2 separate regions of the Homo sapiens genome follow, and region 2 is linked to region 1. Evidence: fine-mapped expression QTL. A gene starts in region 1. The other region holds a variant in brackets. All regions are shown on one strand. Distances are from middle to middle. Region 1 holds the start of KLHDC4 (kelch domain containing 4). Region 2 has its middle 64 kb from the start of KLHDC4.

Region 1 (4,307 bases):
AAAACGGTGAAACCCGGTCTCTATTAAAAATACAAAATTAGCTGGGTGTGGTGGTGCATGCCTGTAATCTCAGCTACTTGGGAGGCTGAGGCAGGAGAACCACTTGAACCTGGGAGGCGGAGGTGCAGTGAGCTGAGATCGCACCATTGCACTCCACCCTGGGCAACAAGAGTGAAACTCCTTCAAAAAAAAAAAAAAAAAAAAAAAAAAAAAGCAGAAAGCAGCTAACAGCTGGTTACTGAGTGCTTACTTTCTGCCAAGCACCATTCTGAAGATACCACACAGATGAACTGACTTCCTGTGCCACAACCCTAGCCAGCAGGTCATGCCACTGCAGCCCAGCCTAGGTGACAGAGCAAGACTCTGTCAAAAAAAAAAAAAAAAAAAAGAAAGAGCCTAAGAGGAGTGTGAGGGAAAAGTCCAACTCCATTATTTAAGAGATGAGGACATGGAGAGATCAATGACTTAGGAAGAAAAGGGACAAAGGACTGTGGTCAAGAGCTCCTGATTCAGGACATCTGGTCACATCCCAGTTCCATACCACTTCATGGTTCACCTGTTGGTCTTCCTGTCAAATGGGAATACCAGTGCTACGGAACTGACCTGCTCGTGAGGAGTAAAGCCCAGGGAGCTGTGCCTGGCGCACGGCAGGCCATAAAACTGGCCCCGGTTAGGGAATCCATGAGCAGCAGCCGCAGAACACTCAACCCCAAGGTCAGGACGGATCCTCCTGCAGACCCCGGGCTGAGGACCAGAGGGAAGGAGACAACCGTGATGGCCGCCATCAGCTGCTACGGGATACCCCGTGGCTCCAGTGCCTTCTTCACTTAACCATCTGCTGCTCACTGCTCAGGGCTGCTGTGATGATTATTTGCCCTCTTTTGAAAGAAAAGTAAGGTTCAGAAAAGTTAAGAGTCTTACTCCCAGACCACACATCATGCAGAGGCAGCCCCCGGCTCAACCTCAGGTCTTCCTGTGCCAAACCCCTCCCTCTTCTCACCACCCAGCCTCCCTTCAGAGGGAGGGTGGAGGGAGAAGGGAGGAGGGGGAGGAAACGCAGAAAAACGCCCGTGACACCACACTAAGAAAAGCAAGCACGTTAAAGGGGGCAGCTCCGAGAAGCGGACAGACACACGTGGAGACTCAGGAGGGGGCGGGCCCCGTCTGGGCTGCCCGGACGCGGCGCCGGGGCAGTTCCTACGGCCTCCAGCTCTCCCGCAGGGCCGGCGCGGCTCCCACGGCCGACCCGTAACCCCGGGGGGCGCAGGGAGTCGGCCGAGGCTGCACGGCCGCGACGTCGGGCCGCTAAGCCCGGTCTGACCCGCTCACCTCCTCCTTCCGCGAGCGCTTAGACACCTTCTTCTCCATCTTGGCGGCCGTCTTCTCCGCGCCGCGGCCCTTCTTCTCCTTCTTGCCCTTCTTGCCCATCTTGCCGGGTCCCAAGCCGCGACGGGACACCAGGAAAGAAAACGGCCCGCGCTCTCCGCTCGGAAACAGGTGCTCGTGGGGCGGAGCTCGGCGCACAGAAATGGAGTCACTTCCGGCCCCGAGTTCGAGCCGCTTCCGGGTAGAGGTGCGGCTGGGCCCTTTACGAGGTTCGGTCTTGGAGCTCCGTCTTCGGCAGCGGGCTCGGGGGCCTCGGACTCTGCATAAGGCCCCGGAAAAGATGACCGGCCCCGGGCTGGGCGCGGTGGCTCATGCCTGTAACCCTGGAGCTTTGGGAGGCCTTGGCGGGCGGATCGCTTGAGTCCAGGAGTTCGAGATCAGCCTGGGCAACAAAGCGAGACACCACCCCCCACCCCCAGTCGCTACAGAAGAAAAAAAAAAAAATTAACCGGGCGTGGTGTCTCGCGCCCAGTGGTCCTAGCTCCTCGGGAAGGTGAGGCGGGAAGATCGCTTGAGTCAAGGAGTTCCAGGCAGCAATGCGCCCCTGCACCCCAACCTGGGCGACAGAGCGAGATCCTGTTTCAAAAAACAAAAAAGATGGCAGCCCCGGCCTGACATACCCCGGCCATGCTCGCCAATTCTCACGCCCTGTGCCCCCACCTAGCCTGTCCCCGTGTCCTAGGAGACGTGCCCTCTGAGTTTTATTTTTTATTTCTATTTTTTTGAGGCAGGGTCTTGCTCTGTCGCCCAGGCTGGAGTGCGGTAGCGCGATCTCGGCTCGCTGTAACCTCCGCCTCTGGAGTAGCTGGGACCACAGGAGCCCACCACGCCCGGCTCATTTTCTCTTGAGTTTTCCGGGGTGCACGTGCCCCCCGTTAAGGCACATTGCTTCGCCCTGGGTAGAACTAAGTGGGCGACTCTTGGGCTAGCCCCATTTTTTCCCCTCAGACCAAACAAATGAGTGCTTTTTTCCCAGAAAAAAAATTTCACACAGTTATAAGATTTTGCAGATCCTGAGTAAGACAGTCCCTGCCGGGCGCGGTGGCTCACGCCTGTAATCCCAGCACTTTGGGAGGCCGAGGTGAGTGGATCACGAGGTCAGGAGTTCGAGACCAGCCTAGCCAACATGGTGAAACCCCCGTCTCTACTAAAACTACAAAAATTAGCCAGGCGTGGTGGTGGGCACCTGTAATCCCAGCTACTTGGGAGGCTGAGGCAGGAGAATTGCTTGAACCCAGGGGGCAGAGGTTGCAATGAGCTGAGATCAAGCCACTTCACTCCAGCTTGGGCAAAAGAGCAAAATTCCATCTTAAAAAAAAAAAAAAATGGGGGGGCCCTTCCACCTTCCCATTTAAAATGTGCCAGACACTGTTAGGTACTAAGGGCATGTCCTCAAATGTCCTAACATGGAGGACTTTTGTTTCTTCATAGGTAGGCTAGAGCTAATGATAGCACCCTGAAAGGGTACTCAATTTGTGGAGCCTGAGAAATAAAGATAGGTAATATCCAAATGCCTGCTAGGAAATTGTACTCTAGGATTTGCCTCAAATTACGTAAGAAATGGCAAAATCATCTGCAGTGCATGGAATGTTATGATTTGAAAGAGCAGAGTAAAAATGCTTATCACTACTTAGAAGATGTCATCTTTGGATGGGTAATCAAGGAATAAGGCAAATTAAGGACAAGGACAAGCCAAAATTTGGCAAAGGGAAAGCATAAATCAGGAAATAATCTAGTTTATTACTTTGTGTGTGAGTCAGCCTTTAAAAGTTCTCTTAGGCCAGGCGTGGTGGTTCATTCCTGTAATCCCAGCACTTTGGGAGGCTGAAGCGGGCTGATCACGAGGTCAGGAGTTCAAGACCAGCCTGGCCAATATGGTGAAACCCTGTCTCCACTAAAAATACAAAAAAAAAAAAAAAAATTAGCCAGGTGTGGTGGCACCCACCTGTAGTCCCAACTATTCAGGAGGCTGAGGCAAAAGAATCATTTGAACCTAGGCGGCAGAGGTTGCAGTGAGCGGAGATTGCACCACTGCACTCCAGCCTGGGCGACAAAGCAAGACTCCATCTCAAAAAAAAAAAAAAAAAAAGATGTTATCTTAGATCCAGCCAGGTGTGATGGCTCACGCCTGTAATCCTAGCACTTTGAGAGGCAGAGGCAGGCAGATCACCTGAGGTCAGGAGTTTGAGACCAGCCTGATCAACATGGTGAAACCCCATCTCCACTAAAAATACAAAATTAGACAGGCATGGTGGTGCGCACCTGTAATCCCAGCTACTCGGGAGGCTGAGTCAGGAGAATGGCTTGAGCCTGGGAGACAGAGGTTGCAGTGAGCCGAGACTGAACCACTGCACTCCAGCCTGGGCAACAGAGCTAGACTCCGTCTCAAAAAAAAAAAAAAAAAGAAGAAGTTAACTCGGCCAGGCGTAGTGGCTCACATCTGTAATCCCAGCACTTTGGGAGGCCAAGGTGGGCAGATCACGAGGTCAGGAGTTCAAAACCAGCCTGGCCAACATGGTGAAACCCCGTCTCTACAAAAATACAAAAAAATTAGCCAGGTGTGGTGGTGTGCACCTTTAATCCCAGCTACTCAGGAGGCTGAGGTAGGAGAATTGCTTGAACCGGGAGGAAAGGTTGCGGTGAGCCCAGATCACGCCATTGCACTCCAGCCTGGGCAGCAAAAGCGAAACTCTGTCTCAAAAACAAAAAAAGTTACCTTAGATCCAATCAATGACTAGTCACTGAGCAGCTGAGGAGGAATGATTTTCCAACCCACTCCAAGCCTTATCCATAAACCTAGCTCTTTAAGAAGAAAAATGAAATTTGGGGAAATAATGAGAAGAAAAGATAGCACTGGTTGAAGACCACCATGGTCTCCAGCACTGCTTGTAGGAAACCTATGTGGTGGTAGAAAAAAAAAA
Region 2 (4,376 bases), 65 kb before region 1:
GTGAAACCCCATCTCTACTAAAAAAAAAATACAAAAATTAGCCAGGCGTGGTGGCAGGTGCCTGTAATCCCAGCTACTGAGGAGGCTGAGGCAGGAGAATCGCTTGAACCCGGGAGGCAGAGGTTGCAGTGAGCAGAGATCGCGCCACTGCACTCCAGCCTGGACGACAGAGTGAGTCTGTCTCAAAAACAAGATACACACTGTAGAAAGACGGGCCCTCCCCTGCATTCACTCAGCTCGCTCCCCTGTAAGGCCCCAAGCCAGGCCATGGGCCAGCGGTCCCCGGGACGTCCATACTCCAGGCTCTAACCACACTTGCTCCTTTTCACTTGTAGAAGCACATGGCCACCGCGTCTCACGGAGGGCCATCAGTCACCCCCAAGGCGCTGCAGACCTAAAGTGTGGAGAACTCGAGGGAAATGAAATGTTTTTCATACTTTTGCAGTTCAGGTTCTTGGTTGTCCTTTACTCCTTCCCCGGGAGGTTTTATCGACAGCTGGACCCGTCGGACTGAAGAGACCCTGAGGCCTGTGGTGGTCCCCAAGCTGCTGGCGCTCCTGGGCCGTGTGCGGGTGGCAACTCCCCTCACAGTCTTCATGGGACAGTGCGGATTTCACCTCATACGTGCGACAGACGCTCTGCAGGAGACAGCGGAAGGACCGTCTCCCTCCTCTAGGTCATGCTCACTTTCTCTGACTCTTCCGAAGTTTGATCTGACTGTTCTTGCCTTTGGTCTTGGAAACTTGACATCAAGGTGCCTATTAGATTTTCAGTCGTCGCCTTCCATAGCTGCAGGTGCTGTGACTGTTTCTGCCTTCAGCCGGCCGACAGCACCGGGCGCAACAAGCTTCAGGACATCATGATGCCGCCCTCCTGCAGTACCTTTAACCTCGCCCGGGCCAGGGTCTGCCTCCAGCCCAGGACCAAGACCCCGATTCCAGATAAGGCGGAGGGAGGAGGGCAGGGGGTAGAGGGAGGAGGGCAGAGGGTGGAGGGAGGAGGGAGGAAAGAGGGTGGAGGGAGGAGGGCAGAAGAAGAGGGCAGAGGGAAGAGGGTAGAAGGAAGAGGGTGGAGGGAGGAGAGAAGAGGTGGAGGGAGGAAACAGGGTGGAGGGAGGAGGGAGAACGCTGGAGGGCAGAGGGAGGAGGGCAGAGGGCGGAGGGAGGAGGTTGGAGGGCGGAGGGAGGAGGTTGGAGGGCGGAGGGAGGAGGTTGGAGGGCGGAGGGGAGGAGGATGCAGGGCAGAGGGAGGAGATTGGAGGGCGGAGGGAGGAGGTTGGAGGGCAGAGGGGAGGAGGTTGCAGGGCAGAGGGAGGAGGTTGGAGGGCGGAGGGAGGAGGTTGGAGGGTGGAGGGAGGAGGTTGGAGGGCGGAGGGAGGAAGCTGGAGGGCGGAAGGAGTCAGTCAACTCAGGCACCTGGTTGGCTTCTCTCGCGCCCAGGCCGCGTGTCAGGTGAGGCAGTCGGTACGCAGAAACTGAGGAAGCGACTGTCCCCAGGTGCCAAGGAGGTTGCTGGCTCAGCCTTCAAAACAAGCAAGGAAGAGTGCAGCTGCATTTGTTGAAAAAAAGCCAGGCTGTATTTTCACCATGTGCCCCCTGCCTTGAAAATGAACTACGGAATGCACAGCGCGTGGGGGGTGGGTGCTGGAAAGGGACAGAACAAGGGTCCGTGGCAACCACAAAGCACCTGCAGGCCAGCGCTTCCCGATGAGCAGAGGCGGGGGCTGGCACCTGGCGCTGGCTGCAGACGGGAAGTCAACGCCACCAAAGCAGAGGACCTCAGCCACCCAGGTTAGCAAGAGGGTAGCAGGGCGCTCAGGAACAGGTGAAGCCATACTGTGGAGAGAAGCTGAATGCTCCTCCCAAGCTTCAGCCCACCCATTAGGAACAAATGCTCTTTAAGTCTGTTTCTTCATGAAACCCAAAGTGGAAGTGCCTGAGCTGTGAATGCGGCCACAGCGTTCATGCCAGCTTGTTCCCAAGCCTAGGAGAAGCAAGCAGCCCCGTGACGGGCACAGGCCACAGTGTGGGCGTGAGCTCACCCCATGTGTAGCCGGGTGCTGGGCCCAGGCCGCTGGGTTTCTGGGGTCGGCAGAGTGGGCCAGGCAACAACCTCACATGCCTACCTCACTGCCACTCGTCCGCCTCGTCCACTCCTGGCATTTGGGATAAACATCCTGTCTCAGACACACCCTTCTCGTGCGCCCATGCCACCTGCTCAGGCCTATGCCGCCCGCCCGTCCTCCCAAGCGTGCACACCCGTCCGCCATCCTTCTCCCGTCTGTGCCCCATGGGACAGAGGCCTCCAGCTGCACCACCACTGCTCGTTAACAGCTGCCATCCACACCGAGGAAGCCTCTTCGAGCCCAGGGAGTGGAGGATGGGGCTCTGCTGTGCACGTGCTCCCTC[G/A]GGCCCTCCCAGCAGTGGTAGATGGGGCTCTGCTCTGTCCTTCTTGGTCATCTTCCTGGGCCTGCAACAAAGCTCAGCCCAGCAGCCAGGCAGCTCCTTACAGAGGCTAACGCCGGGTCTGGTCCCTGGTGACCCCAGGCTGCTGTGAGAACTTGTGACCCCCGAGATCAGAACAGCCTTCGGGTCCCAGAGCTTCCCGCATGATCGTGTGTGGAACAGACCGGGAGATTCCAGCAGATATGGGTTCAACGTTGACCACCAACCTTGACAACCCAAGGGCTGCCTCCCCTGACCATGACAGCCAACTCCTCCTCCACAGTGGCTCTGCCAGGCGCCGAGTCCATAAAGGGCAGCCACTGTTTGGCAAGGAGGGCCGGTCTGCCGGGGGCTCCCAGGCCCTGGGGTCAGGCTGAGAGAGGAAGATGGGTGTGAGGGTGCAGGGGCAGGGGGGCGGGCCCTGCAGGGCAGTGCCTGGCCCGTCCTGCACCCCCAGCCTGGGAACCCCCGGCTTTCTCGCTTGGGCCTCTGGGGAGCCCGCGTCCCCAAATGTAGCCACATCAGAGCACACTTCTCCGGCAGCAACTTCCCAGGCATGTCCGTGGCCTCCTCGGGGGCAGGCGCCCCCTCCTGGACGCTGAGCTGACCTCTCTAGCAGGACTCTGCTCATCTGCACCATTTGCCATTTCCACAGAAACCCTGTCCCCAGAGCCCGGCGGAGAAAAAAACCACAGGGGCCTCTCTGCTCAGGGGAGCCACGCGGAAGAGGCACCCTCGCTCCAGCTGCCAAAGCAACTGAGCCTGCTGCAAACATCTCTGTGAACTCGGACAGGAAACAGTGTTAACCTGTGTTTCCTTCCAAGTCGGCCCTGGCGCATGTGAACTGCTTGCTAATACTGTGTACAATCACGCCGTGCAATGACAGAGAGAACTTTTCTTATTGATGAAGTGGTTTAAAAAGTTACCCTGAGCCTTTTTTCTTTGCTTTTAAGCTGGAAAGATAGCTTGATTACTTATGAAATGAAAAAAAGTTTTCCTAAATGAATGTAACAGTTTAAATCATACTGTTACGAAAACAACACTGTCAAGATTAAAAAGAAATTCTGCTCCTTTTAGTAATAAACAATGTCGTGTGACACTTTGGAACGCTTCTCTCGTTACAAACCAGCGTCTTTACTGAAGGTCCTTCCGCTGCAGAGCTGCGCAATGGATGTGTGGACAGAGCTAGTCGGCACGTGGAGGCTCTCCTGGTTTTCGAGCAGGAAACGTGCTGTGAGCAGGAATCGCGAGTGAGTTCCATGGCGTCCCCGGGTCAGCGCGCGTGCAGGAATCGCGAGTGAGTTCCATGGCGTCCCCGGGTCAGCGCGCGTGGGGTCCTGTCTCGCTGGCTCACCACTGGTGGCCAGGGCATGTCTCCCCCAGCCCTGAGTCTCCGCAGTGGTGACCAGGGCATGTCTCCCCCAGCCCTGAGTCTCCCGGCAGTGGAGGCAGCGTGGGCACAGGGTTTGTCACAGCCTGTAAGTGAATGGAGGACACAAAAATAACCAGAGAGGCAGGCTCTGCCCTCCGGGAGTGCACAGGCGGTTTTTAAAATGTGTGCGTTCATGTAATTAAACGTCTCCGTTTGTTTCTCAGGGAGTGGTTACTCAATTTCTTCCCAGCCAGAGCTTTGTAAACCTGCGCTTCTCACCCCTCAGTGAAGCCTGAGTCCAGCCTCTAAAGGTGGGTCCCCTGGGTGGGCTGCAGCCAGTGGGGGCTTGGAAGGGCTCTGAAGGTTGAGACAAGGAAAACGGGCGTGAGCTGGACTCAGGGAAGCCGGGTCACCGTGGTACCTGCACTGTGGCCCTTGGCCATGACAGTGTGTCAGCTTCCGGCAGGGACTGCTTGTGTGCCTCGGGACACCAGTGACCAGGTGTGGCCAGGCCCCAGATGGCATTGCTGCAGCTCTCTCGTGAAAGAGTAATGGAGGTG

Evidence for each region. PIP is the estimated chance that this variant, and not a neighbour inherited with it, causes the effect.
Region 2: its variant is the best candidate, but not a certain one, in a credible set for the expression of KLHDC4 in CD8 T cells (CEDAR, PIP 0.88).

Annotation. Positions count from the first base shown.
Region 1 is chr16:87,764,463-87,768,769 of GRCh38, forward strand. It overlaps KLHDC4 (kelch domain containing 4), which reads right to left and starts at 1,524. Exons shown (of 12, transcript NM_017566.4): 1 at 1,330-1,524. The coding sequence starts at 1,428. LOC105371399 (a long non-coding RNA gene) reads left to right here and starts at 1,579. Exons shown (of 3, transcript XR_933871.3): 1 at 1,579-1,879. It overlaps LOC102724467 (a long non-coding RNA gene), which reads right to left. Exons shown (of 4, transcript NR_120309.1): 4 at 1,869-1,962. RefSeq lists enhancers at 812-1,436, 1,420-1,479, 1,560-1,619.
Region 2 is chr16:87,699,513-87,703,888 of GRCh38, forward strand. It overlaps a transcript of KLHDC4 not described here. Among named protein-coding and RNA genes, the nearest start is that of KLHDC4, 64 kb to the right of the region's middle. RefSeq lists enhancers at 2,199-2,248, 2,979-3,228, 3,264-4,376 and a silencer at 2,799-2,858. The variant G/A (reference allele first, on the strand shown) is at 2,409.